4 linked regions of the Homo sapiens genome follow. The protein of the gene in region 1 interacts with the protein of each later gene in a pairwise test. Each region holds a gene or a part of one and is shown on either strand. Other genes may lie near its edges.

Region 1 (6,967 bases):
AGACAGATCTGCAGAAATGTGCACACACACAAGGATGCTCTGAGCGTGGGGGAGCAGCAGGAGGTGGTGGGAGGTGGCTGGGACTGCTCCTCCCAGGCTGGCCCCTGGAGCAGAGGCCTGGGTGCTAGCCGGGTGGGAGTCCTGGTAAGGAACATTCCAGGCTGAGCTGGGCCAGAGAGGCATCCAGGGGCAGGGACCAGGTGGCCAGGCCTTTAGGCCAAGGGGGAGGGATTGGGTGTGATTCCTGGTGTTGGAGCCTGGGAAGGCAGGGTGGAGCTTGCGGACTTTCTGCGGGTACCCCACCCTCTGCCCAGTCTCTTCCTGAGCTGGCAGGCGGTGAAAGGGGCTGCCAGGGTTGCTTCCTAGGAAGCCACCTTCTCTGTGTGTCCCCGCATGTGCCAGCCTGGGGGGGCTGTGTCCCACATATGCCAGCCTGGGGGAGTGTGTGTGTGTGTGTGTGTGTGTGTGTGTGTGTGTGTCTGTCTGCCTGCCCCTGCACGTGCCAGTCTGTGTGTGTGTTCACGTGTGCTTGTGTGTGTGTGTGTGTCCACGTGTGCTAGTGTGTGTGTGCGTCCACGTGTGCGTGTGTGTGCGCGCACACGCAGCACCACCTGGTGGCCACTCAGCTCACTGCGCCCGCCACAGGGCTGGCCTGTGCTTCTGGCTCAGAAAACTGGCCTCAGCGCAGCCCCTGTCTCTGCCCTCCAGGGGAAGGAGGAGTTTGAGAAGACCCAGAAGGAGCTGCTGGAAAAGGGCAGCATCACGCGGCAGGGCAAGAGCCAGCTGGAGTTGCAGCAGGTGAGGCCCCGGAGCAGAGCAAGGCCCAGCTTTGCCCGCTGACCCCCTGAGCCCCCAGCTCTTGCCCTGCAGGGCCGACCCCGGGTCCCCAGCTTCTCATGTTGTCTGACAGTGCTCAGAGCTGGGCCCGGCCTGCCACCCCCCTGCCTCCTGACCATCTTCATCTTTTCACTTGGTTTATTTTAAAGTTTTCAAGAGTAATTGTTGGAGACATTTAGGGAATTAGAGAGTGGGGTGAGAGCAGAAAATAGACCCCTCACAGCTGCCATAGGCTCAGCACGGGGCTGGCTCTGCCCTGCTCCTTCCTCCAAGCTGCTCCCTGCATGGCCGGGATGGTGTCCTGTGGGCATTCGACTCTTCTGTCCCAGCATCTGCCATGGCGTTAAGCATTCTTGTGGATTCTTTCAAAGACCACTTAGCGTCTATTGAATGTTTGTATTGTACCCACACTTCCTTAGTATTTTTTTTTTTTTGACACAGAATCTTGTTCTGTCACACAGGCTAGAGTACAGTGATGCGATCTCAACTCACTGCAGCCTCAACCTTCTGGGCTCAAGCGATTCTCCTGCCTCAGCCTCCCCAGTAGTTGGGATTACAGGCGCCTGCCACCACACCTGGCTGATTTTTATATTTTTTATAGAGACAAAGGTTTCACCACATTGCCCAGGCTGGTCTCAAACACCTGGGCTCAAACGATCCACCTGCCTTGGCCTCCCAAAGTGCTGGGATTATAGTGTGAGCCACCACATCTGGCCCCTTATTATAAATATACTGCTGTGTTTATATGCAGACATGTTAATAGAATTTTCCTCATATTTTGAATCAGTTCTTCAGGGTAGGAAAGAGGTATGTAAAAAAACACTAAGGGAGCTTTATTCTGATTATGAAGATAATTTTAAAAGTGAAAATACAGGATAGCACGAAGTGAACATAAAAATATCACCCGTCAAATCTCCCTCGCCTACCTTCTGGGCACCAAGGAGGTGGCAGAGGCAGGGGCCTGAGACCCACGACACACAGCAGTGAGGCTGCAGCCGCCTCATGAGAGCTCGGTGAGAATCACTGAAAAGTGGAAGATGCCTGGGAAGTACCTGGCACATGGAGACACTCAGGAGAGGCTAGACATTGACATCTCAGAACGGTGGCAGGGTGGCAGGGGGTGGGGGCTGAGAAATTACCTAATGGGTACATTGTACCCACATAACAAAACTGCACCTGCACCCCTGTTAAATCTACTAAAGAAAACACCCAAGAAAAGAATAAATGTCACACCTGTAATCCTAACACTTTAGGAGGCTGAGGCAGGAGGATCACTTGAGGCCAAGGGTTTGAGACCAGCCAGGCCACGTAGTGAGACCCAAGTCTGTATACATTAATACAAATTGTGGCCAGGCACAGTGGCTCACACTTGTAATCCCAGCACATTGGGAGGCCAAGGCGGGCAGATCACTTGAGGTCACGAGTTTGAGACCAGCCTGGTCAACATGGCAAAACCCCATCTCTACTAAAAATACAAAAATTGGCCAGCATAGTGGCACACGCCTGTAGTCCCAGCTACTTGGGAAGCTGAGGCAGGAGAATCATTTGAACCCAGGAGGCGGAGCTTGCAGTGAGCCGAGATTGCGCCACTGCACTCCAGCCTGGGCGACAGGGTGAGATTCCGTCTCAAAAAAAATAAAATAAAATTGTTTTAAAAACCTCCTGGGTGCCGAGGCGGGCGGATCACCTGAGGTCGGGAGTTCGAGACCAGCCTGACCAACATGGAGAAACCCCATCTCTACTAAAAATACAAAACAATTAGCTGGGCATGGTGGCACATGCCTGTAATCCCAGCTACTTGGGAGGCTGAGGCAGGAGAATCGCTTGAACCCAGGAGGCGGAGGTTGCGGTGAGCCGAGATCGCACCACTGCACTCTAGCCTGGGCAACAAGAGCGAAACTCCGTCTCAAAAACAAAAAACCTCCTGAAATATCAACAATATATAGGTCTATATCTCTGTCTAGAGAGAGAACTCTGGGATCGCCGTGTTTTCAGAAGTGGTCGTGTACTTTGTCCGTCCTCTGTGTGCCTCCAGCACTGACTTCACCAGTCCCCTGCTGTTGGACACTTAGGCTGTTCCCAGAGTTTTACTTTTGTGAACAGTGCTGTGATGAATACTAGTCTTTGCACGTATCTGATGAATCACTTAGATAACTTGCTAGAAGCTGGATTAAAGGGCAAGAATATATGTGAAGAACTTTAAAGATGTAGAATTCCAAGGCCAAGGACATAAAGTCCATGTTAAATGCAAGTCCATGAAGACTTACTGATGAGAACATCTGTTGCCCCATTTTTGTATCGGTGAAGAATCTGAAATCTCCACCCACAAAGTGTCTAATAGGAGAGTATTGATTCAATAAAGTATGGACATTTATGCAGTGGGATATTATATAACTATGAAGAGTTGTCAAAGAATAAAAAGGGCTGGGTGCAGTGGCTCACGCTTGTAATCCCATCACTTTGGGAGACAGAGGCGGGAGGATCATCTGAGGTCAGGAGTTTGAGACCAGCTTGGCCAACATGGTGAAACCCCATCTTTACCAAAAATACAAAAATTAGCCAGGGGTGGTGGCGCAGGCCTGTAATCCCAGCTGAAGCAGGAGAATCGCTTGAACCCAGGAGGCAGAGGTTGCAGCGAGCCGAGATCGTGCCACTTCACTTCAGCCTGGGCGATAGAGCAAGACTCCATTTAAAAAAAAAAAAAAAAAGATTAGCCTGGGTGACAGATCAAGACTCCTTCTTTATAAAAATAAAAATAGTATTGAAAAAAAAAAAACCCCACAAAGCTTGTTGCCTGTGCTCTGTCAGGGCTCACTGCAGCCTGGACTTCCCAGACTCAAGTGATTCACCTGCCTCAGCCTCCCAAAGTGCTGGGATCACAGGCATGAGCCACCTCACCCTGCCTCATCAGAGCTTTTCAAAGAAAAAAAGCGGAGTATGTATCTCACTGGCTAAGGGAACGGAGAGATGGAGGATTTCACCAAGTGGCTGCCTAAGGGGGACAGTGCGAGGTTCTAAGTGTTAGGAAGGGGAGGTTTCCTATTGGTTTTGCTCATTGTGGCTTGGATCTTTGCGCCTAGGGTGGCACAGAGCTTACCAGTCCTGAGTCTGGGTGTGGCTGGTCACTTCCGGAGCCAGAGCGGCTCTAGTGAGGACACATTGTCCCCTTCAGCTGACTCCTAGGCACGGGAGTGGAAATGTTAACTTTCGTGTGTGGTTCTGGAAGATGATTTAGCAGAGGTTCTATTTAGGGGCATTGGATTACAGGTGACATCTTCGTTTTTTCTGTTTGATATATTTGAATCTTTTTATAATGTGTATGTTACTTTTGAACTAAGGGGAAAATTTTTTTAACCTTCCATTTTGAAATATTTATAGATTCACAGGAAGTTGCAAAGATAGGGTCGAGGGGTCCCCAGTGCCCTTCAGCCATTTTCCCCAGTGCCACGTCTCAAGTCACGTGGGACAGTACCCAAGCCAGGACGGTGACCCCCCGACCCCAGGCAGCCACTTTTCTGTTGTCCATCTTGTCATTTCAAAAATGTTCAGGGCACGGAGTCTGACCTTTTGAGACTGGTGGAAGGGTAACTGAACAACCTCCAGAAGGCTTGCCATGGTTCCTGGTCCCGTCCCCGGGAGAGGAGACTGCCCGTTTCCCTGCAGTCCCATGCACTCTGAGTAGCGGCCCTTTTAGAGAAGCCCAGCCCAGGGTGCCCAGGTCTCGGCCTGTAGTTCCAACTCACCCGAGAGCCTAACCCTGCTCCTGCTTCCCTCCTGCCCCAGCTGAAGCAGTTTGAACGACTGGAACAGGAGGTGTCACGGCCCATAGACCACGACCTGGCCAACTGGACGCCAGCCCAACCCCTGGCCCCGGGGCGAACAGGCGGCCTGGGGCCCTCGGACCGGCAGCTGCTGCTCTTCTACCTGGAGCAGTGTGAGGCCAACCTGACCACACTGACCAACGCCGTGGACGCCTTCTTTACCGCCGTGGCCACCAACCAGCCGCCCAAGATCTTTGTGGCGCACAGCAAGTTCGTCATCCTCAGCGCCCACAAGCTGGTGTTCATCGGGGACACACTGTCACGGCAGGCCAAGGCTGCTGACGTGCGCAGCCAGGTGACCCACTACAGCAACCTGCTGTGCGACCTCCTGCGCGGCATCGTGGCCACCACCAAGGCCGCTGCCTTGCAGTACCCATCGCCTTCCGCGGCCCAGGACATGGTGGAGAGGGTCAAGGAGCTGGGCCACAGCACCCAGCAGTTCCGCCGCGTCCTAGGCCAGCTGGCAGCCGCCTGAGGGTGGTGACCCCAGGAGGGAGGCAGGGGAGGGGTGCGGCGGTCCCAGCTCCCTGGCTCCCATGTCAAGAGTCGCTGTGCCACAGGCTTAGGGACAGGACCCCAGCTCTGCGTCGGTCCTGGTGCCCTGGATGCCCAGGAATCTGTATATATTTATGGCCGGGCAGGGTGTGGGGCCATGCCTCCTCAGGAGCCGAAGCCCAGGGGCCGGCCAGTGGCCTTCCCCAGCATGCACCACGGGCCCGGGTTGGGTCACCAGACGGGGCTGGAGTGTGAGGGTCCTGCAGCCTGCAGGACCTCGTGCCACCCCGAGGGCTGAGCCTGGTCCCACGAGGGTGCCGTGTCCCCTGACAGGGCCAGTGCAGTTTGGTGTGTCCTCCGCCTTACCAGGAGAAGAACCTGAAGAACTATTTTTCGTTATTGGTTTTCCAATCATTTGACTAAGAGTCTCCATTTAAATAAAGTTTTTAAAAGGAAGAGCAGCTGCCTGAGGGTGGCAGATGAGAGCAGCCCGGGGTGGGTGACGGTTCTGGGGAAGGCACCCGGGGGCAAGGGCCATGCGTGGCATCTCCCGGGAGGGCAGAGGAGGAGTGGGTCTCTCTAGAAGAAAACCAAGGAACGCCGAGGCTGGGTGTCTCCTGGAGGCGGGGTGAGGCCTGCAGCTGGCCACAAGGCCCTGGGAGCCAGGGCAGAGCCTGGGCCCAAGAAAGGGGGCAGTTTCAGAGCTGCAGGGTCTGGGGCCCAGAAAGCACAGCCTGGGCATGGCCCCTGCAACCCTAGGGAGCTGCCACAGTGAGCACCTGCCCATGCCCACAGCTGGCATCTGGAGTGAGGGCAGATTGGGGCAGGAACAGCTGCACAAGGGGACGGGTTCCTGTGAGCCGAGGGCACCGCTGGGGGCTGCATCCAGAGCTCTGCTTAAAAGAATCTCATCCCAGCCTGCGGAACTCCCGAAGTGCACATGGAATTATACCTGGACCTGGCATCTGAGTTGGGAGGGAGGGGCTTGGAGAAGACCCTTGCCCTGGGCAAGTGTGTCCCCCTTCGTGGCTCCCCCACCCAGCAGCCCGCAGCCCAGATGGAAGCTTCAGGGTGCTTGGAACCCCTGGTGCTGCTCCCAGCCCTGACCGTTCTGCATATGAACATGGGCCTTGGTTTCCCCATCTGTATGAAGAAGGGAGTAGGGCTGGGTGATTCGCAAGCCCTCCTGATCTTACCTCTACAGAGGTTGTCCCCGTGACAGCATCTGTCCCCCCACCTCAGCCACATCATGCTCAGCCCACCTGCCTTGGTGAGGACACAGAGGTAAAGGTGTATGCAGTTGCTCTCAATGGCTTTATTTGTGTTTTACACAGATGCGGGGTAGGGGGGGTGGTCTCGGCCTCCACGCCTTCCCAGGCATGAATTTCATGATGCGGGCATCCACGCCTGGTGACAACAGGAGGTGCTGGTGCTGCTCCAGGACACGATGCCCTCCAGAGTCCAGGCTCCATCCTGGCAGGCAAGGGCTGTCGGAGTCACCCTGCAGGAAGGAGAGGAGGTGTCTCCAGGCCTGAACTGGGTGCCAGGGCCTGGGAGACCCTAACCTGGCGGAGTCCAGGGAGGGGTGCGGAGAAATGGCAAGTGTGGGTGCAGGGGCTGTGCCAGGGTCCTGAGGCCTGGGTTCACGTGGCAGCCCCAGCTCTGCCATGCACACTCCTGGAGGGAGCTGGGGCAAGTGGCTTTCATCCATGCCGGGGCGCCATTCATCCCATGAGCTGACGCTTCCAGCTCAGAGGGCTGGGAAGAGGAGGAAGTCCCCAGGCAGCCTCGCCTGCCTGGTTCAGGAAGCTGTG
Region 2 (7,821 bases), on another chromosome or scaffold:
GGTATAGGTGTGAGCCGTTGTGCCTGGCCAGCATGTTATTATCTTAATGTCTATTTCTCTGAATCTTGAGTTTATTGACTAGGAATTGGGCTTTGTCATTAGACAGGCCTGGGTTTGAGTTCCAGCTCTGCCTCTTGCTGTGTGGCTTCAGGTAAGTAACCCAGTTCTCCATTTTCCCAAGTGTAAAATGGACATAATGGGATTATTACAAGGATCAGCTGAGAAAATAAATGTGCAACACTTAGTATAGTAAGGTACCAGTGCAGTTGGTAACTTAACATCTCTGTGGCTTTCACCTCAGACAAACTTTGTAATTAAGTAAAGAAAGCCTTTATGGAATGAACAATTGGATTAATATGTTGGAGTTAAGAAGAAATATTTCGGCTGGGCATGGTGGCTCATGCCTATAACCCCAGCACATTGGGAGGCCAAGGTGGGCAGATCACTTGAGGTCAAGAGTTCGAGACCAGCCTGGCCAACATGGCAAAACCTCACCTCCAGTAAAAATACAAAAATTAGCCGGGTGTGGTCGTGTGCGCCTGTAAGCCCAGCTACTCAGGAGGCTGAGGCAGGATAATCACTTGAACTTGGGAGGCTGAGGTTGCAGTGAGCCGAAATCACGCCACTGCACTCCAGCCTGGGTGACAGAGTGAAACTCTGTCTCAAAAAAAAAAAAAAAAAAAGAAGAAGAAGAAGAAATATTTCACATTTTATGTATTCGCAATGTTTAAGAAAATTTGGCCGACTTGAATGACAGCTTTTTTGTAAATCATTTTAAATGTGTAATTGAGTTAGTTTTAGACTTAGGTTTTTGAGTTGAAAGCTTACTAAGTTTACACATGGAATCAGGCCATCTAAGAGAATGTTAGCTTTGTTATGCTTGTATGTTTATTTATAGGAATTACTAAGTTTTGAAAAAGTTTTAAACAATTGAATGAATTAAAAAGAAAATCTAGGCCGGGCACAGTGGTTCACGCCTGTAATCCAAGCAGTTTGGGAGGCAGAGGTGGGTGGATCACCTGAGGTCAGGAGTTCAAGACCAGCCTGGGCAACATGGTGAAATCCCGTCTCTACTAAAAATACAAAAATTAGCTGGGCGCGGTGGTGCGTGCCTGTAATCCCAGCTACTCAGGAGGCTGAGGCAGGAGAATCGCTTGAGCCCAGGAGGCAGAGGTTGCAATGAGCCAAGATTGTGCCATTACACTCCAGCCTGTGCGACAGAGTGAGACTCCGTCTCAAAAAAAAAAAAAAGTTTTGAAAAAGTTTTATACGATTGAATGAACTAAAAAGAAAATCTAGGCCAGGTGCGGTGGCTCATGCCTGTAATCTTAGCACTTTGGGAGGCCGAGGCCAGTGGATCACAAGGTCAGGAGTTTGAGACCAGCCTGGCCAATATAGTGAAACCCCATCTCTAATAAAAAAATATATATATATATAAAATTAGCCAGGTGTGGTGGCGGGTGCCTGTAATTCCAGCCACTTGGGAGGCTGAGGCAGAAGAATCCCTTGAACCCGGGAGGCGGAGGTTGCAGTGAGCTGAGATTGCACCATTGCACTCCAGCCTGGGTGACAAGAGTGAAACTCCATCTCAAAAGAAAAAAAAAAAGAAAATGTAATAGGAAATCTAATATAGACAATATAATAGGCACAATTTATTCTTTATTATTATTTTTTATTTTTATTTATTTATTTTTTTGAGATGGAGTCTCGCTCTATTGCCTAGGCTAGAGTGCAGAGGCATGATCTTGGCTCACTGCAAGCTCCGCCTCCAGGGTTCACGCCATTCTCCTGCCTCAGCCTCCCGAGTAGCTGGAATACAGGTGCCCGCCACCATGCCCGGCTAATTTTTTTTTTTTTTGTGTTTTTAATAGAGCTGGGGTTTCACCGTGTTAGCCTGGATGGTCTCAATATCCTGACCTCGTGATTCGCCCACCTCGGCCTCCGAAAGTGCTAGGATTACAGGCGTGAGCCACCGTGCCCGGCAATTATTATTATTTTTTAAAAGACAGTCTCGCTCCGTCAACCAGGCTGGATTGCAGGAGCACAATCTCGGCTCACTGCAACCTCTGCCTCCTGGGTTCAAGTGATTCTCCTGCCTTAGCCTCCCGAGTAGCTGGGACTACAGGCGTGTGTCACCATACTAAGCTAATTTTTTTGTATTTTAGTAGAGACGGGGGTTTCACCATGTTGGCCAGGCTGCTCTCGAACTCCTGACCTAAGGTGATCCACCCACCTTGACCTCCCAAAGTGCTCGGATTACAGGTGTGAGCCACTGTGCCTGCCCTAGTAGGCATAATTTTAAATATTTGAAGATGTTGAATTAACTGAGTGAGACTTAAAAAAAAATTTTCAGGAAATTTCAGAATGCTCTATGTCCTCGTTGCCATTGCGGCTGCCTTTCTCAAGAATGCCTGGCCTAAGGAGCGGGTGCTGGTCCTGTTCCTCACCATCGGGGGCCTAGCTATAAATCTGACCCCAGTCTGCCCCTATACCATGTACTCCACCAGGATCAACTAGGCCACGCCCCACAACAACCCAGTGCCCCTCCGAGATGATGGGAACATGCTGGACATGCCCAGCCACCCCCAAGGCCCAAGCATGGAGTGGTTGAAGAAACTGCAAGCACTTCCATTGACATGGAGAAGACCATGTCCCCTGTGGCCCCCAATAAAAATGTGACCCCCCCGCCTCCGAAATAAATAAATCATTCAGTTTCTGAAAAGTGTTTGGTAAAATGTGCTAGACTTATAAATAGAATAATACAATTTGTAAAGTGAACTTAAAAGCTTAAGAATGAAATAACTTTTTACTTTGTAGGCTTAATAAATGAAACCCTTGCCCACTTTTCTACAGGGGTGTTTTGTTCTTACAGGTTTTCAAGTATCTTTAATAGTCTGAAGGAAGAGTGAATACATTGAAAATAGCTGGAGCAAAACATCTGGAGTCAGGCTATGATTTGGCATGCTAAATCATGCTGAACTTGGCCCATTATCTTGAAGGGAGGAATAGAAAAAAAAATTTAAAAAGAGAAACACAATTGCATTTGCACTTTAGAGAGAACACCCTGATAACTGTGAGGATCTAGTTGGCAGAAGGGCGACTACAGTGTAATCACAACAGGGATGGAGACAAAAGTAGACATCTCAGAAATAAACACAGATTGGATGTAGGGTGCGAGGCAAGGAGCCTGGGGTGTTCCCACTGGGAATTGAGTACTTCTGTGAATAGAGAATATAGCAGGAGCAGGGTCAGTATTTGACACGTGGGATTTGAAGTGTCTGCCCTATACACAGGTGAAAGTGTTCATTAGCTGAAAATACTGAGGGACTTCCAGACGATCTGGTCTGGTGATACATATCGAGGGGTCCTCAGCAGTTATAGGCGAGTGTAGAAAAGATTACTGAGTAGGCAAAGAATAAACGGAAGAGGGCCGGGCGCGGTGGCTCACACCTGTAATCTCAGCACTTTGGGAAGCAGAAGCGGGTGGATTACCTGAGGTCAGGAGTTCGAGACCAGCCTGATCAACATGGTGAAACCCTGCCTCTACTAAAAATACAAAAAAAGTAGTTGGGCGTGGTGGCGGGCACCTATAATCCCAGCTACTTGGGAGGCTGAGGCGGGAGAGTCGCTTGAACCCGGGAGGCGGAGGTTGCAGTGAGCCGAGATCGCGCCACTGCACTCCAGCCTGAACGACTGAGCAAAACTCCGTCTCAAAAAAAAAAAAAAAAAAAAAATGCCGGGCGCGGTGGCTCACGCCTGTAATCCCAGCACTGTGGGAGGCCGAGGCGGGTGGATCACGAGGTCAGGAGATCGAGACCATCCTGGCTAACACGGTGAAACCCCGTCTCTACTAAAAATACAAAAACTTAGCCGGGCGCGGTGGCGGGTGCCTGTAGACTCAGCTACTCGGGAGGCTGAGGCAGGAGAATGGCGCGAACCCGGGAGGCGGAGCTTGCAGTGAGCCCGGATCGCGCCACTGCACTCCAGCCTGGGCGACAGAGCGAGACTCCGTCTCAAAAAAAAAAGAAAATAAAAAAAAAGAAAGAAAGAAAAGAAAAAAGAATAAACAGAAGAGGGCTGCGGACAGAATACCGTTGAATACCAATATCTGAAGGGCAAGCCACAAGGTGCAGGGGGCAGAGGCATCCCTGATACGGGAAAAGAGTTATTTTAAAAAGAACTTGCAAAGAACAATGTCAAGGGATCCAAAGGTAGGGAATTTGGACAGAGTTCGGCTTTAGCATCCGCATCTCAAATACCTGGGTACCTGGGTAATCTGGTGACTGCTGCCGAATCTAAGAGGACTGAGGCCAGGTTGCCAAACTGCGGAGAGTGGGGTTGGAGGGCTTTCATGGCAGTTTGGGGCCTGCTTGTGTCCAACAAGACAACCTGGGTCACCTCAAAGGGTGTCTTCTCCAAATATTGGTGCAGAGGTTAGCTGGGCCGGCAAGAGAAGGGAGATGACCCACTATTTTGATTTCAGGCAGCAGACACCGGCAGCCTTTCGGTTAGAGTTGCGGATAGGGCAGTGGCCTTGGGGGCGGGGCTATAAACCTGGGCGGGCATTCCCGGCAGGGCAAGCTCAGCGTGAGCCCGATTGGAGGATGGGCTCTACCTTCTTCCTTCCGCCTACGGAGACCATAGCGGGATGCAGGGCGGGGCCGGGCTGAGGGGGCGGAGTTAGGGGCGGGGCACGGTGACTCTGGCCCCGCCTCTTTCCGGCCGCTCAGGGCGGTGTCGCTGGGGCGGTGCCGCTGGGGCGGGGCCTGCGGGGTGGGGCTGACGGCACGGGGCGGGGCCTCGGGGACCCCGGCAAGCCCGCGCACTTGGCAGGAGCTGTAGCTACCGCCGTCCGCGCCTCCAAGGTTTCACGGCTTCCTCAGCAGAGACTCGGGCTCGTCCGCCATGTCCGCCGCAGACGAGGTTGACGGGCTGGGCGTGGCCCGGCCGCACTATGGCTGTGAGTGCGGGGCTCCGCGGCGCGGGGGCTTCGGGCTGGGCTAATTGCAGACGAGGCGCGATTTTCCTGGGGGCTCGGCCGGGCGGGTGGGGCAGGGCGGCTGCCGGCAGCTCGGACCCGGAAGAGCCGTCCCGGTGGGGCGGCGGGCGGCGGGCGGGGAGGCCCCTGGTTCGCGCCCCCTCGGGGTCCGAGGCGGCGGAGAGGACCCCCGAGGCCTCCCGCCTTAGCTGGGGCCGCGGTAGGGGGAGCCCCACCCAGCGCCTCTCGCCGCCCAGGCTCGGCCGAGATTGGGGAAGACGGCCTAGAGTGAGGTGGCAGGATGACCGCGCAGGGCGTGTCCCGGGGATTGGGGGTCTGGGTACGCGGGCTCTGCCCGTTTCGTGGAAAGGCGCTGCCCTAGTGTTGCCTGCGGGGTAGACCCAAGGGATAGACCAGGGTCCAGACCTGTCCGGTCCCAGGCTAGCTACGAGGTGCCGTCCTGGGCAAGTCACTTCAGTTTTCTCGGGCTTAGTTCCCTCCTCAAGATTTCAAAAGTAAAATAGTAATAAAGAAAAAAAAAAGAAGCAGAAAATCCTCTGACTTCCTCATTTTCTGTTGTCGGCCCTGGACGTCATTGAACTGCAGGCAGGATTGGCTAAAGGAGGACCCTTTGGGATTTTGAGGTTTTCGGTTTTATTTTATATTGTGGGAATAATGTTCTTTTTTAAAGGATCAACATTTCACGCATCAACAGTTATACGTGAGGTATTGTGCCACGTTTGTGAAATTAAAGATGAGTAAGATCAGGCCCTGTCTCCAAAGAGCGTTTTAATCAGAGAGTCAGGTGTGCAAGCTAATGATTATAAGGTGCAATAATGATAAAAGATGCTGAACTTACTAGCCATACAGAGTAATGTAGGTAAGGAGAAGGGGCCTGGGGAAGACAGTATGAGCACGGGAGGTGACTTTTTTTTTTTTTTTTTTGGAGACAGGGGGTCTTGCTCTGGTCGCCCAGCCTGGAGTTCAGTGGTGCAATCTCAGCTCACTGCAAACTCCACCTCCCAGGTTCAAGCGATTCTCCTGCAGTCTCCCGAGTACAGGCGTCGGCCACCACACTGGCTAATTTTTGTATTTTTAGTAGAGACAGGGTTTCACTGTGTTGGTCAGGCTGGTCTCAAACTCCTGATCTCAAATGATCCCCACGCCTCGACCTCCCAAAGTGTGAGCCACTGCACCTGGCCTGAAGGTGACATTTGAACAGAGCCTTGAAGAATGCTGTGTAGAAAGTTTGACAGGTGGCCAGGCATAGTGACTCCTGCGTGTAATCCCAGCACTTTGGGAGTCCGAGGTGAGAGGATAGTTTGAGGCCTTGAGTTTGAGACCAGCCTGGGCAGCACAGTGAGACTCCATCTCTTAAAAAAAAAAAAAAAAATTAGCCAGGCGTGGTGGCCCATGCCTGTGGTCCCAGCTGCTTGGGGCTGAGGTAGGAGGATCATTTGAGCCCAGAAAGTCGAGGCTGCAGTAAGCCATGATTGTGCCACTGCACTCGAGCCGGAGTGACAGAACAAGACCCTGTCTCAAAAAAAAAAAAAAAAAAGTTTGATAGGGCATGTGGAACAAGAGACAGGACCTGAGGGAAGAGCATAAACAAAGGTATTGAAAGTAGAGGGATACTGTGTTGGGAACTGAGTGATGTAGACTGCACAGTGGTGGGAGGAAGGGAAGAGGAGAGTTTCCAAAAATAGTTGGGACCAGACTGGGAAAGGCCTTGAATGCCTTCCCAAGGAGTTAGGAATTTATTCCACACCTGGTGCCCATGAAGGAAGCAGATTGCTTCAAGGTTAAGCTCAGGCTTTGGAGACAGACTCTCCAGGTTTGGATTCAGGCCCTGTCACTTATTTGCCATGGGGCTGAGTTCACCCAGCCTCAGTTTCTTCGTCTGTAAAATAGGAGTGATAATCACAGGATTGTTGTGGGGTTTCAATGAGAGAATGCGTGTAAAATGCTTCGTACAATTACTGCCACTTATGTCTCAATAACTGCTGGCTTTGGTCATTAATAAAAGAGGGAAACAATATTATCAGATCTGTATTTAGAAGGAGTTCTGGCAGATAGGGACAGATTTGTGCCAAAATCTCAAGACAGTATTTTTCAAGATTACACTGAAACTTAGTACATATTTATATTATCATACATTTTTAAAAAGGTCAAGATGATTATAGTTGAAACCACATAGTTCTTTTTTTAAGAAAGTCATTGTAGTACACCTGGCTGGCTACACACTCATTAGTTATCCTGACTTTCTAGGTGAGTGGCAGGAAATTGATTCTGTGGCAATCTTTTATCACTCAGGAAGGCTACAGATCCTGGTGTTTACATTCTTTCTTTTATGTTGTAGCTGTCCTGGATAATGAAAGACTTACTGCAGAGGAGATGGATGAAAGGAGACGTCAGAACGTGGCTTATGAGTACCTTTGTCATTTGGAAGAAGCGAAGAGGTAAAGATTGGCTGGCTGGAGAGAAGATTAAGAGAAGGGAACTGATAATAGTGTGAATACAAATAAAGATTGCTTTGAGGCTGAACACAGTGGTCCATGCCTGTAATCCCAACACGTTGGGAGGCCGAGGTGGGGGGGAATCACTTGAACCCAGCTGTTTGAGACCAGATTGGGCAACATAGTGACACCCCATCTCTACAAAAAAATTTTAAAAATTAGCCAGGCATGGTGGTGCATGCCAGTAGTCCTAGCTACTCGGGAGCCTGAGGAGGGAGGATCACTTGAGTCCGGGAGGTCGAGGCAGCAGTGAGCCGTGCTCTCACCACTGTGCTCTAGCCTGGGTGACAAAACTCCTGTTTTTGGTGGGGGGAAAAAAAAGAAAAG
Region 3 (7,023 bases), on another chromosome or scaffold:
TGGTGGGTCTAGAACTGCTAAGGGCACTCTGAGTTGCATAGGTACCCATTTCAGTAACCAATTTCTGAACTGGCCCTACAGTTATTTCTTCTTCAGGTTTTAATTCACCAGCTTCTTTCTTTATTTCTGACTCTACAATTGGGATCTAAAAGTCAATTGGAAACATCATTTTAGTAATAGTATCAACAGCAAGCAAAATTATCTTTAAATATTTGATTGTTTCTCTAAAAAAGGCATTACCCTAATGGGATTTTTGGAACTGGGAACTCTGCTTTCAATTTATTTCCTTCCCAGGATAATGTAGTAGGTAGAATAGGGGCTTCAGAGATGGATATTCCAGGGTTTGAATTCTCACTCTGCCACTTACTACTTTGGACCTCAGTTTCTTAATCTGCTAAGTGGAAATCTTAATTCTTTCTACACATTTTACCTAATAGAAAAATGCATTGGACAGTGTCTAACACAAAGCAGATGGTCATTAAGTCGTATTCCTCTTCTTCATTCCTTTCCTTGAAATTTTAACCAAAACAGTACTCATCCTTCTAAAATGAAATAAATCCGACTTATTTGTACATAATAACCTCATCAACTAACTTTTAAATTAACTGAATGGCTATTATGTATTTATTACTCAATACCAGTCCATTACCTAATATAAGAGCACTAAGAGTATTTAATCATTACCTATTTTAATTTATTTTATAGGTGAAAAACACTGATGTCAAGTTAGGTTGAGGAACTTATATTCAAGGTCCTCCAGCTAACTGTCGACACAACAATGACTAGAACTAATTGTCAGGTCTCCTGATAATTAGTCCACTGTTCTTTCTATTCTACCATAAGGTTGTTAGGATGAAGAATACTGTCAGTTTTACTGCATAAATATTCTGAAGTCAGACTTACTCTAAGGCATTCTTCCTTCAGAATACAGGCTAAAGCAGAATTTTACAAGCTACTGCTTCTTTTTTTTTTTTTTTTTTTTAATAAACACAGAACATTTTGTTCAAACAAAATCTAACTCAGAAGTGTAAATAATGTAAGCAAATCACTATAAAAAGTCAGATTTTCCTAAAGGAAAAATTACCATATAAACTAACATTTACTAAAGTAAAACATACCTCTCCAAGGGACCTGCGGATCTCAGTCATCACACTCTGAATGTCTTCCTTGGTACTACAGTATTCTCCCAGGATCCATAATGCTCCTCGGTAAATCCTAGCACAATACAAGATCTGAAACATGAACTTGGCAGACAAATCTTGAAGCAGAGATCTTTCTTTGTTAATTTAAGCTCAAATAAAAACAAGGGCCAGGCACTCACGCCTGTAATCCCAGCACTTTGGGAGGCCGAGGCGGGCGGATCACGAGGTCAGGAGATCGAGACCATCCTGGCTAACATGGTGAAATCACGTCTCTACTAAAAATACAAAAAAATTAGCCGGGCATGGTGGCGGGCGCCTGTAGTCCCAGCTACCCGGGAGGCTGAGGCAGGAGAATGGCGGGAACCCATTCTCGGGAAGCGGAGCTTGCAGTGAGCCAAGATCGCGCCACTGCACTCCAGGCTGGGTGACAGAGCGAGACTCCGTCTCAAAAAAAAAAAAAAAACAAGGGCCAGGCACGGTGGCTCACGCCTGTAATCCTAGCACATTCGGAGGCTGAGGCCAGCGGATCACTTGAGCCCAGGAGCTCAAAACCAGCCTGGGCAACATGGTGAAACCCCATCTCTACTAAAAATACAAAAATCAGCCAGGCATGGTGATGCACATCTGTAATCCCAGCTATTGAGGAAACTGAGGCATAAGAGCTCCTTGAGGCCGGGCACAGTGGCTCACGCCTGTAATCCCAGCACTTTGAGAGGCTGAGGCGGGCGGATCACCTGAGGTTGGGAGTTCAAGACCAGCCTCACAAACATGGTGAAACCTCGTCTCTACTGAAAATACAAAAAAAATTTGCTGGATGCAGTGGCACGCACCTGTAGTCCAGATACTTGGGAGGCTGAGGCTGGAGAATCGCTTGAACATGAGAGGCGGCGGTTGCAGTGAGCCGAGATCGCGCCACTGCACTCTAGCCTGTGAGACAGAGCAAGACTCCATCTCAAAAAAAAAAAAAAAAAAAGAACTGCCTGAATCCAGGAGGCGGAGGTTGCAATGCCCTGAGATAGCGCCACTGCACTCCAGCCTGGGTGACAGAGCAAGCTTCTGTCTCAATAACAAAAAAACAAAAAACAAAAACCAACAAGATTCTGCAGTTCTAAAGTATTTTAGATAAATATTTCAGAAAGAATCTAACAAAACCTAGGTTTCAGTTCTCTCCAGAAATCACAAAGATTAAAAGTAAAATAACTGTTCTTATTATTAGGAACATTCTAAAACTGGTAAACCTAGCAGTAAAAATAAAATACCAAAATGTTTCCCAGTAAAGTGTCCATTTAGGACACAGTGAAGGCAAATTTGGCTTAATCTCTTACTACTCTAAGAAATGTATTATTTTATGGCCAGACACTGTGGCTCACACCTGTAATCTCAGCATCTGGGGAGGATGAGGTGGGAGGATTGCTTTAGTCCAGGAGTTCGAGACCAGCCTGGGCAACAAAGCAAGGCCCTCATCTCTCTTAAAAAAATAAATAAATAAAGTAAAAACAAAACAAAAACAAAAACAAAAAATCAGGAATGTATTATTTTAATGTAAAAAGTAATTCACTTTTTATTTTCAGTCACTGAAGAGGCAAGGTGTTGAACTGAACAATGGATACAGAAGAAGTACAAGGGATCAGTAAAAAAATAATAGTAAAGAAAGCAACCATTCATTCATTCATTTAGATTAAAAAAATAAATAGAGACAAAGTCTCACCATGTTGCCCAGGCTGGTCTCCAACTCCTGACATCCAGCAATTCTCCTGCCTTGGCCTCCCAAAGTGCTGGGAATACAAGTGTGAGCCACCATACCCAGCCAACAATTCTTTAGTTTAAAATGTTAAACTGAATAAAGTCCTTAGTCATCTTTCCCCTAAGATTTTAATTAAATTTATTCAGAAAAACTTAATTATAGAAACCAAAGCTCTAAGAGATTATGGCTGTCAAAAACAAATTCTTAATGTCATAGCTCTTTTAAAATTTGTTTAGCAGGCTTTCTGGTTTTTGCCGGAAAGCCCTCTCACAAAAAAAAAAAAAAAAAAAAAAAAAGCAAATCCTTAATATGATTTTCTTCTCACAAAGGAAGCAAATCCTGCTCTGCTCACTTCCATAAATATTAATATATTTTCATATCATAAAAACAATTTTGTACTTGTCCCTTCCTTCCTGAGACATATTTCAAGTCTGTTAGAGACTATCCATCAGATGCTTTAAATGAAGCAAAATTTAGATGCAACAGTCCTTTCTCATTAGCAAAGGCTCTCTGAAGGGAAAGACAGATTTAGGTTGCATTTTCAATCTTTCTCTTCATTAAATGTGAAAGGAAGATATAAATAATAGTAATAGCCAAAAAGTGATGCCATTTAAAAATATGCTCTTTAGTTACTTTAAGATTCACAATGTTTTAGAGAAAATCAGAATAGAGACCCTGAGCTAAATCACTCCTAAAAAAATTATTTTGGGCCATTTATTATAGACTAAATGAGAGTGGAGTTAGCGAGATGCTTGTTGTACAAACTTGTCTTATTTTGGCTTGATTGTCCTCTCCATTCTATTTTCTATCAACTGACCCTTTAAAGATAAAAACTGATAAAATGCTTACTTGACCTTACATTTAAATGTATTTTAAACCTACTTGACAGATTTAATAGCATGAAAGACTTCAAGCATCTTCTCAACAATAAGCATTCTCAGGTTATCAAAGCGCTGAATGGCTTCACGAACAAACTCCAAGACATCAGCAGCTGCTGCTTCGTTGTTGTCACTGAGAAATTCCATTAACTAAAAGAAAAAAAAAAAAAAGAAAATGGAACTAACAATTTTCGAAAAGAAAATTATCTAGGACAAGAAATAAATTAAAAGAATGTAATTCTTTTTTTGTTTTCTAAGAGACAGGGTCTTGCTTTGCTGCCCAGGCTAGAGAATAGTGGCACAATCATAGCTCACTGCAGCCTTGAACTCTTGGGCTCAAGTGATCCTCTGGCAGCCTCAGCCTCCCCAGGAGCTAGGACTTCAGGCATGACACTATGCCTAGCTAATATTAATTTTTTTGTAGAGACAGGGTCTCCCTATATTGCCCTGGCTGGTCTTGAATCCCTGGCCTCAAGTAATCCTCTTGCCTAGCCCTCCCAAAGTGCTCGAATTACAGACATGAAGTGCCATGCCTGACCCTTGTAATTCTTAATAATTTTCAAATACACAACAAAATGTAAATTGAGAGACAAGTACTATTATGTAAACAAAGTCACAATGGCTTTTCCATTTTATGTGCAGCAAAATTTATTTTAAAATTCACTATAAAAGATAAGCTAGAGATCCAAAACTCCAAATAAATAAATGAATTCGATCCTCCTAAATTGTAACTAAAATCATTTTAGAGAGAACTCAAGAGCTCAAAGGCAAAAATCAAATTATAATAACATACCTCACTTATCTGACAGTGACAGCAAAATATTCTACATATGTGAATTTTTCCTATAACTGATTCCTTTAAGAGCTAAAGCTATTTAAAATAAATACCTATTTGCCTTACTGAATAATATATATACACAGCATAATTTTACTTTAGGTAACTGTATCATCAATTAAAATAATATGCAAAGCTTTTTTTTGGTCACTGTTTTTGTTTTTTTGATGAATATATAAGTGAAAGAAGTCAGTCCTCACCCTTCTGAGTTTAAAGGTAGAGGTAGATATAAAGATCACTTCTCACCATGAGATTTAATGGTTCTAGGCAGCTGAGATTTCTGGAGTTTGTCAAATAACTATATTTTTTAAAAAATTCTTTTAGATAATTTCAAAATTAAAGTCATCAGAATTACATACCACAGGAATAACATTTGCAGCCATATCTGGAAATCGGACAGAACAGGAATGCAATGTTCGCACTAGGAGTTGTCTGTATTTGTCAGTATCTTCATGCTCAGACACATTATTTGTTTTTATCACTTCCTTCTTCAGGACAATAACCAGCTTATAGAATGAAGTAAAAATAAGTGAGAGTTACATCATATTTGGGCCTGATAGCTACAAAGTGCTGTCAGAGTTTCCTTTTACCTCTTCAACATTTCTAGAAGAGACAAGATCCAGTGCTAACTGCAGAGTTTTCTTTCGTACTTCTAAGTCTGGTGTGCTCAATACTCTTAGGATATCCATAACCAGATCCTAAAAAAGAAGAAAAAATCAAGAATTAACACCAATCTTTCTGGTCACAGGAAAAAAATCTTCACTGCAGAATGGTGGGGTTTATCTATCATCACTTTAATTCTTTAATCAATAACAAAACCACTAGTGGTGGAAGAACTAGATAGTTTGGGTCTCCTGATACACTGCAATATGAAATAATAGCACATGACACATTCAAACTGATAATGTTTACTTTGACTCTGTCAAGCTAAAGCTAAAGCTCCAACTTACAGTTTATAGAAAGTAACAGAAGTCAAAGAACAAGCTAAACAACGTAAGAAAGTAGCCATACACATCCAGAAAGAGGGGCATTTTATAGTATTACTGGTCTGGTCTCTTCAACAAATCAGTGTCATAAAAAAAAGATACTGTCCAAAATTAAGAGACTGAAAGGGCATAACCACCAAATACGATACATGGTCACAAAATGGGCAAACTAAACAAAAAGGGCTTTTGGGATAACTGGGAAAATCTACATATAGACTTGGTATTAGATAACATTCATAAATTATTAACAATTTCGTTAAATGTGATATTATTTGACTCCATAGGAAAATGTAACATTTAAAAGATGCACACTTAAAAACAATTCGAAACTGATAAAAAAGTTCTAAGAGTGAACTCCTGTATATCCTTCACCTACATTCACCAGTTAATATCTTCCCACATTTGCTCTTTTCTTTTTTTTGAGATGGAGTCTTGCTCTGTCACCCAGGCTGGAGTGCAGTGGCAAGATCTTGGCTCACTGCAACCTCTGCCTCCTGGGTTCAAGCAATTCTCCTGTCTCAGCCTCCTGAGTAGCTGGGACTACAGTTGCACACCACCATGTCCAGCTAATTTTTGTATTTTAATGGAGACAGGGAGGGTTTCACCATATTTGTCAGGGTGGTCTCGAACTCCTGACCTCAGGTGATCCACCTGCCTCAGCCTCCCAAAGTGCTGCGATTTTAGGCATGAGCCACCACACCTGGCCCACATTTGCTCTTTACTGCTGATAATTTTAGTGTATCTCTCTCAAGGGTAAGGATAATTTCTTATATAACCACATTATAATTATCAGAGAATTTAACACTGATCAATACTATTAACTAATATACACACCATATTCATATTTCTCAATCTGTCCCAATAATGTCCTTCATAGAAATTTGTTGTTGCTGTTGTTCTGATCCAAGATCAGCACTGCATTTACCTGCCATGGGGTTTTATTTTTATAACCATTATTATTCTCATGGATTAAACAAATATGGTGATAATTTTCTAGAATCAGATCACCTTTTATTCTCAATTGGTATAATAATTTTCCACGAAATGTAAATTATATTCAAATTAAAATGAGTATGTCACTGTCGCTAAGAATAGTCAATACAGTACAAACCGAAAAGATAAAAAAATATAATACTGATTCACTTTAGAAAAACATTTTTTTTTTTTGAGACAGAGTCTCACTCTGTTGCCCAGGCTGGAGTGCAGTGGCACGATCTCAGCTCACTGCAACCTCTGCCTCCTGGGTTCAAGTGATTCTCCTGCCTCAGCCTCCCAAGTAGTTGGGATTACAGGCGCACTTCACCACACCCAGCTAATTTTTGTTATTTTTAGTATAGACAGGGTTTTACCATGTTGGCCAGGCTGGTCTCAAACTCCTGACCTCAGATGATGTGCCCGCCTCTGCCTCCCAAAGTGCTGGGATTACAGGCGTGAGCCA
Region 4 (6,843 bases), on another chromosome or scaffold:
CTCTGGAGTGAACTGACTGCCGCGAGGCCTGGGGAGCTGGCTCACCACCTGTCCTCCACCGTTCACCCTGTCCACTGCAGAAACGACCTCCTACCCTCAAGCCGGCCCCCAACCCCCATGCACAGGAGCCCAGCCCTCTTGGGCCCCGGCTCCGCCCAGCAGGGGGCGCCCAGGAATCTCAGACTCGGGGGAATGAAAGCCGGGAGAGCAGTGGGGATAGCGGGCAGGTTGGCTGGAAGCCGCGGGCTCGCGCTGAACAGCTCTGAGGCCGGCCAGAGGCCCGTGCCCGGCATTTGTCCAGCCCCAGCTGTCACTTGCAGGTGCCGGTCCGGTTACCCTCATTGCGGGCCAGGAGCGGGGAGGTGGAGGGCGCCCTGCGGCCCTGGGATCCGCCGCCCACGTGCTCCCCGGGCTCCTCCCCCTGCACACCGTTGTTCGCGTTTCCGACCCCGCAGATTCCCCAAGGCGCGCCCTAACGAACTCTCACTCCCCTGGTCCGGGCTCCCTTCTCCGGGATTCCGGTAACCCTATCTGTCCCTGTCTGCAGCCGCGCCGCGCGGAACCCTGCCGGGAGCCCCTACGGAGGCGCCAAATACACAAAGGGTAGTTGGCGGGGAGGCGCACCATGACTACAGCTCCGGGACCTGCGCTTCACCCCCACGGCGCCCCCGTGGGGCCTTGGTGCGCGCGCCCTGGCTGGACCCTCCTAGCTGCGAGAGTGCACGGGTAGTGACCAGCCCAGGCACCTGGGAATCCATCAGCTGTCATCCAATCCTTTAATTACCTTGATTGAGCTCCTTACTGTGGCCAAGCATTGCTTGATTTATTTATTTACTTATTTTTATTATTTAATTTAATTTTTTTTTTTTTGAGACGGTGTCTCGCCTTGTCACCCAGGTTGGAGTGCAATGGCGCAATCTCAGCTCACTGCAACCTCCGCCTCCCGGGTTCAAGCGATTCTCCCGCCTCAGCCTCCCAGGTACCTGGGATTACAGGTGTGCACAAACAGTATTTTTAGTAGAGACAGGGTTTCATCATGTTGGCCAGGCTGCTCTCGAACTCCTGACCTCAGGTGATACGCCCGCCTGGCCTCCCAAACTTCTGGGATTACAGGCGTCAGCCACCGCGCCTGGCCACTTGTTCTTTCTTTCATTCTTTCCTTCACTTGCCAAGGTTCTGGAGACCCACAGAGAGCCCATACTGTCCTCCCGAGACTCCTTTTTGGGAGGGCAACCCACATCTGGGAACTGTGCCCCAGGACAGGATGCAAAGGCACAACAGAGATGGCAGAATCCTGATGTCTGTGCTCTTAAAGGAGGCGTGAAAACAGGCAGGCCAGGCGCAGTGACTAAGGCCTGTAATCCCAGCACTTTGGGAGGCCCACGTGGGTAGATTGCTTGAGGTCAGGAGTTTGAGACCAGCCTGGCCAATGGTGACACCCCAGCTCTGCTAAAAATCCAGAAAATTAGCCGGGCATGTTGGCAGGCACCTGTAATCCCAGCTACTTGAAGCCGGGAGGCAGCCTGGGAGACAGAGCAAGACTTTGTCTCAAAAAAAAAATTTTAAAATGTTTTAAAAATACTTGCTCGGGCCACACCCCAGACTGATTAAGTCAGAGTTTCTTGTAGGTTCTGTTTTTTGTTTTGTTTTTTTTTAGATGGAGTTTTGCTCTGTCACCCAGACTGGAGTGCAGTGGAGCCATCTCGTCTCACTGCAACCTCCGCCTCCTGGGTTCAAGCAATTCTCCTGCCTCAGCCTCCCAAGTAGCCAAGATTACAGGCATGCGCCACCACGCCGAGCTAATTTTTGTATTTTTAGTAGAGATGGGGTTTCTCCATGTTGCCCAGGCTGGTCTTGAACTCCCAACCTCAGGTGATCAACCTCAGGTGATCCACCCGACTCAGCCTCCCAAAGTGCTGGGATTACAGGCGTGAGCCACACTGCCCAACCGCCGGTTCTTTTTTTTTTTTTTTTAACTGTTCAGGCAATTCCAACATGTGCTCAAACTGAAAACCAGGGCTCTCTACTCTCTTAGCAGGTGTTTTCTCCCTTTGTCTACCGTGACGGAGATTACTGATCTCCTGTGGGCTGAGCTCTGTGGTCAGGGCTTGTCCTTATCTGGCCAGTCCTCGGCACCACAAGTGACTGCCTTCACCCCCTCTTGGCCCCTGTCTCTGTCTCCTGGTTCCTCTTCTCTCTACTACCTCTAACCTCTGGGAATCTGGTGTGTCCTCGGGTCCTCAGACCCCCTCACTCCTCCAGAACTGCAAAGCCTTTTTTTTTTTTTTTTTTTGAGATGGAGTCTCTCTCTGTCACCCAGCATGGAGTACAGTGGCGTGATCTTGACTCTGCAACCTCCGCCTTCAGGGTTCAAGTGATTCTCCCACCCCAGCCTCCCAAGCAGCTGGGACCACAGGCGTGCACCATCACACCTGGCTAATTTTATATTTTTTGTAGAGATGGAGTCTTGCTACATTGCCCAAGCTGGTCTTGAACTCCTGGGCTCAAGTGATCCTCCTGCCTCAGCCTCCCAAAGTGTTAGGATTACAGGCGTGAGCCACCGTGCGTGGCCCAGGTGCAAGGCCTTTGACACCACTCACCCACCGACCCCCAAATCTGCTGTACCAGCTAAGCTTTCTGCCCAGGGCGGCAGCCTGGGACATCCATGGCCTGTGATATCTGCCCCAGAACAAGTGAGTCCTGCTCAGAGCCGGGAATTGGATTTCATGGAAGTGTTGAAATGAGGAAGGCGGATGAGCCAACCAGGGCAGACAGCAGAGGCCTCACCCGGTCACATGGGCCCCCACGTCCTGGGCCTCTGGGCCTCCCCAGGAGCCTCCTAAACCCCAGAGCTGTCCGTACCCCTGATCTGCTGAGATCTCCCCATCCTGTGGCTCTCTAGCCCAGGAGGTCACCAGGGCCTGGCATGGAGTCCTCCCTGGAGTCCAGAGATGGGGACACCAAAGTAGTAGGAATGATGGGGACTATAGAGAGTAAGAAACTAGTTGGCCAGGCGTGGTTGCTCACGCCTGTAGTCCCAGCACTTTGGGAGGCCGAGGCGGGCAGATCATCTGAGGTTGGGAGTTTGAGACCAGCCTGACCAACATGGTGAAACCCCGTCTCTACTAAAAATACAAAAAATTAGCCGGCAGTGGTGGCACATGCATGTAATTCCAGCTACTCAGGAGACTGAGGCAGGACAATCGCTTGAACCTGGGAGGCGGAGGTTGCAGTGAGTCGAGATTGCGCCACTACACTCCAGCCTGGGCAACAAAGTGATACCCCGTCTCAAAAAAAAAAAAAAAAAAAAAAAAAAGAAAGAAACTAGTGACCATGTTAGGAACATGCGGGCAACCAGTGCCCCAAGCTTGGGACAGTAGCAGGCAGGACAGGAATTCAAGCGAAATAGAAGTGCCCAGCAGGGGCCGGGGCAGTGGCTCACACCTGTAATCCCAGCACTTTGGTAGGCCGAGGCGGACCGATCCCTTGAGGTCAGGAGTTTGAGACCAGCCTGCCCAACATGGTGAAACCCCTTCTCTACTAAAGATACGAAAAGTAGCCAGGAGCGGTGGTGCGCGCCTGTAATCCCAGCTACTCAGGAGGTTGATGCAAAAGAATTGCCTGAACCCGGGAGGCAGAGGTTGCAGTGAGCCGAGATGGCACCATGGCACTCCAGCCTGGGCGACAGAGCAAGACTCAGTCTCAAAAAAAAAGAAGTGGCTGGCAGGATCTGGAGACGGACTGGAGCCTCCCCACCTCCTTCCCTTCCTCCTCTGCCCTCCCCCGCCCCACCTCTAGCAGCCCCCACCCTGTGTGCTGACCGTGGAGCAGAAGCCACAGTCACTTCCTGAAGGCAGCGGCCCCAGCTCGGGTCCCACTCATCCCATGGCCCATCACCTGCCTGCAGCCATGGTGAGTGCTGGAAGAGGCCTGTGCCTCACTGGCTGGGAAGCAAGGGACACAGATGTTCCCAGAAGGATAGGATCCACCTGTGGAGGGGCGGGCGGGGGGGCGGGGGGTGGCTGCGAAAGACATCTGGGAAACGGGAAGGGTCGGCAAAAAGGACCCGAGGTAGGCGGCCACCAGGCACACCCCAGGACAGCGCGGGCTCCTGGGGGTTCACGCTCAGGTTGGGACTGCGAGGGGGACAGATGGGACTCCCCGGGGGGACAACTCCCGTCTCCCCAGGTCAACATGAGCAGCCATGTGGGAACGGGCTGCTGGGGTGAGAGCAGTGCTTTCCTGCGGGGTGACAAAGTGGGTCATGACCCTCCCCCGTCCAGTCACCCAAGTTGTGACCTGCTAACCCTGACTTATCTAGCCCTGTGGTCGCCCGGGAGCACTTCCTTCAAACCACTCGGGGCTTTGACAGGGGCACTTCAGGCCCCAGGTGGGAATTGCTGCCTTTCCAAGGAGCAATCCTGGTCTCTGGTCCTCTGGATGGGGAAAGTGAGGCACACGCAGGAAGCAAAGGCCACACGTTTCTGCCCTTTCCCTCCCCCAATCTCCTTGACCACAGGTGAAAGGGGCGTTTGTAGGACTAAGGAGGCCTGGCCTTCTTGTGAATCTGCCTACCTCTGTGAGGAGTGGTTGCAGGGCCAGCTAGGAGGGCAGCTGGGACAGCTGGGTATGCAGGAGACAGCGCCTGTGCCCACGGTGTCTGCACCAATCCTCTCAGGCACTGTCAACTGTGAGCATTCCTGACCATCAGCCCGCATGTCAGAGACGGTGTGAGAGGGACCGCATGGCCGTCTCCAGGCATCTCTGTGTTTTCCTGATGGTCAGGCTGAGTACATGGCTGTCTTTGTGCTGCCTGAATATTGTTTATTTCAGCAAATATTTACTGAGCACCTACCATGTTCCAGGCCCTGGGAAGACAGCAATGAATGAGCCAAGTCTCTGCCTTGCAGAGGCTGAGGAACTGAGGGAAGTTGTGGTGTAGAGAGACAAAAAAAAAAAAAAAAAAAAATCAAGACACATTAAAAACAATGTAAAATAGTATAATACGTAGGGGTGGGTACGATGGAGAAAATCATGCATGCTGAATGCAGGGCAGTAGTGGGATGGGGTGATCCATTTAAAATAGGGTGGTCTAGGCCAGGCGTGATGGCTCATGCACTTTGGGAGGCCGAGGTGGGTGGATCACTTGAGGTCAGGAGTTCGAGACCAGCCTGGCCAACATGGTAAAACCCTGTTTCCATTAAAAATACAAAAAAAATTAGCCAGGCGTCGTGGCAGACACCTGTGATCCCAGCTACTCAGGAGGCTGAGAATCGCTTGAACCCAGGAGGCGGAGGTTGCAGTATGGCGAGATTCCACCACTGCATTCCAACCTGGGTGACAGAGTGAGACTCCGTCTCAAAAAAAAAAAAAAAAAAGAAAGAAAGAAAAATAGGGTGGTCTAGGTTGGGCACGGTGGCTCACACCTGTAATCCCAGCACTTTGGGAGGCTGAGGCGGGTGGAGGGTGGATCACCTGAGGTCGTGAGTTTGAGACCAGCCTGGCCAACGTGGTGAAACCCTGTCTCTAGTTAAAATACAAAAATTAGCCAGGTGTGGTGGCGAGTGCCTGTAATCCCAGCTACTTGGGCGGCTGAGGCACGAGAATCATTTGAACCTGGGAAGTGGAGATTGCAGTGAGCCGAGATCGCGCCATTGCACTCCAGTCTGGGTGACAGAGCAAGACTCCATCTCAAAAAATAAAAATAAACAAATAGGGTGGCCTTGGATGGCCTCTCTAATAAGAAAATATGAGAACAGAGGCTGGGAGGAGGAAAAGGAGAGACCCAGGTGGTGCAGAGACATGTCCTGGGTCAGGGACAGGGCAGAGGCCCCGAGGTCGGAGGGAAGTGTTCAGGGTGCAGGGAGGAGAAGGTGGCTGGGTAGGGAGGCTGGTTCGCCCAGGCTTTTATGAGGCATTTAGCTTGAACTGTGGGGACATGAGGAAGCATTGCCGAGTTTTGAGCAGAGGGACACAAACAGACTCAGGGTTCAACAGGCTTCTCCCTCCAGCTGCCATGGGGGGAACTGACCAGGGAAGGGGGTAGGCAGAGGCCCAGGGAAGGGCTTGTTAGAGTAATCCAGGCAATTGGTTGGGGGAGGGCAGACACTGCCTCCCACTACCTCCTGGGGTGACAGTGGTGAAGGCAGTGAGAAGTGGTTGGATTCCGGATGTGTTTTGAAATTAGCACAGAAGGGACTGGGGGCCTGGGCGCGGCGGCTCAAGCCTGTAATCCCAGCTACTGGGGAGGCCGAGGTCGGGGGAATCATTGGAGCCCAGGAGTTGCAAGCTGCAGTGAGCTATGATTGCACCACTGCTCTCCAGCCTGGGCAATGGAACGAGACTGGAGACATGCAGTGGGAGGGGTGAAAGAATGAGGGGGTCAAGGATGCTGGGGGGGTGGGGTACCACCCATGGGGGGAGGGCAGTGGGACTGGAGGCTGCAGGAGGGATGTCGGGATCTCCAGTGCTGCTAGAGGAGGTTGGGTGTGGAATCAGCACTAAATGGAGAAGTAGGGAGGGGTGTCGGTCCCAGGATCCTAGGATCCATGGGGGCTCCTGGGAAAGAGCTGAGGGCTGACCGGGCCTGGGCGCAGGGGTGGTGGTTGTGGGCTGTGCCTGAGGGTCCCCAGGCCCATCCTTCCATGCCCCTTCTGTGTGTTTGAGCCCCTGCCTCATTGGCTCTGCGTCTCCTAGGAGAGCCATCAGGACTTCCGGAGCATCAAAGCAAAGTTCCAGGCCTCTCAGCCGGAGCCCAGCGACCTGCCCAAAAAACCTCCGAAGCCTGAGTTTGGTAAACTGAAGAAGTTCTCCCAGCCTGAGCTAAGCGAGCACCCCAAGAAG

The links.
Region 2: the proteins of BCAR1 (region 1) and IQGAP1 interact in binary tests that used the Homo sapiens proteins (3 or more experiments, as listed by UniProt).
Region 3: the proteins of BCAR1 (region 1) and COPB1 interact in binary tests that used the Homo sapiens proteins (3 or more experiments, as listed by UniProt).
Region 4: the proteins of BCAR1 (region 1) and PRAM1 interact in binary tests that used the Homo sapiens proteins (3 or more experiments, as listed by UniProt).

What each region holds. Positions count from the first base shown.
Region 1 is NC_000016.10:75,227,677-75,234,643, reverse strand, and holds the end of BCAR1 (breast cancer anti-estrogen resistance protein 1), read left to right. Parts: intron 1-708; coding exon 709-798; intron 799-4,620; coding exon 4,621-5,133; 3' UTR 5,134-6,463; downstream 6,464-6,967. UniProt on the Homo sapiens protein: Docking protein which plays a central coordinating role for tyrosine kinase-based signaling related to cell adhesion. Implicated in induction of cell migration and cell branching. Involved in the BCAR3-mediated inhibition of TGFB signaling.
Region 2 is NC_000015.10:90,383,437-90,391,257, forward strand, and holds the start of IQGAP1 (ras GTPase-activating-like protein IQGAP1), read left to right. Parts: upstream 1-4,805; 5' UTR 4,806-4,905; coding exon 4,906-4,960; intron 4,961-7,337; coding exon 7,338-7,437; intron 7,438-7,821. UniProt on the Homo sapiens protein: Plays a crucial role in regulating the dynamics and assembly of the actin cytoskeleton.
Region 3 is NC_000011.10:14,475,801-14,482,823, forward strand, and holds part of COPB1 (coatomer subunit beta), read right to left. Parts: intron 5,298-7,023; coding exon 5,190-5,297; intron 5,106-5,189; coding exon 4,959-5,105; intron 3,915-4,958; coding exon 3,769-3,914; intron 1,216-3,768; coding exon 1,119-1,215; intron 146-1,118; coding exon 1-145. UniProt on the Homo sapiens protein: The coatomer is a cytosolic protein complex that binds to dilysine motifs and reversibly associates with Golgi non-clathrin-coated vesicles, which further mediate biosynthetic protein transport from the ER, via the Golgi up to the trans Golgi network.
Region 4 is NC_000019.10:8,499,634-8,506,476, reverse strand, and holds the start of PRAM1 (PML-RARA-regulated adapter molecule 1), read left to right. Parts: upstream 1-3,836; 5' UTR 3,837-3,885; coding exon 3,886-3,912; intron 3,913-6,275; exon of another isoform or gene 6,276-6,332; coding exon of another isoform or gene 6,333-6,365; intron 6,366-6,696; coding exon 6,697-6,843. UniProt on the Homo sapiens protein: May be involved in myeloid differentiation. May be involved in integrin signaling in neutrophils. Binds to PtdIns(4)P.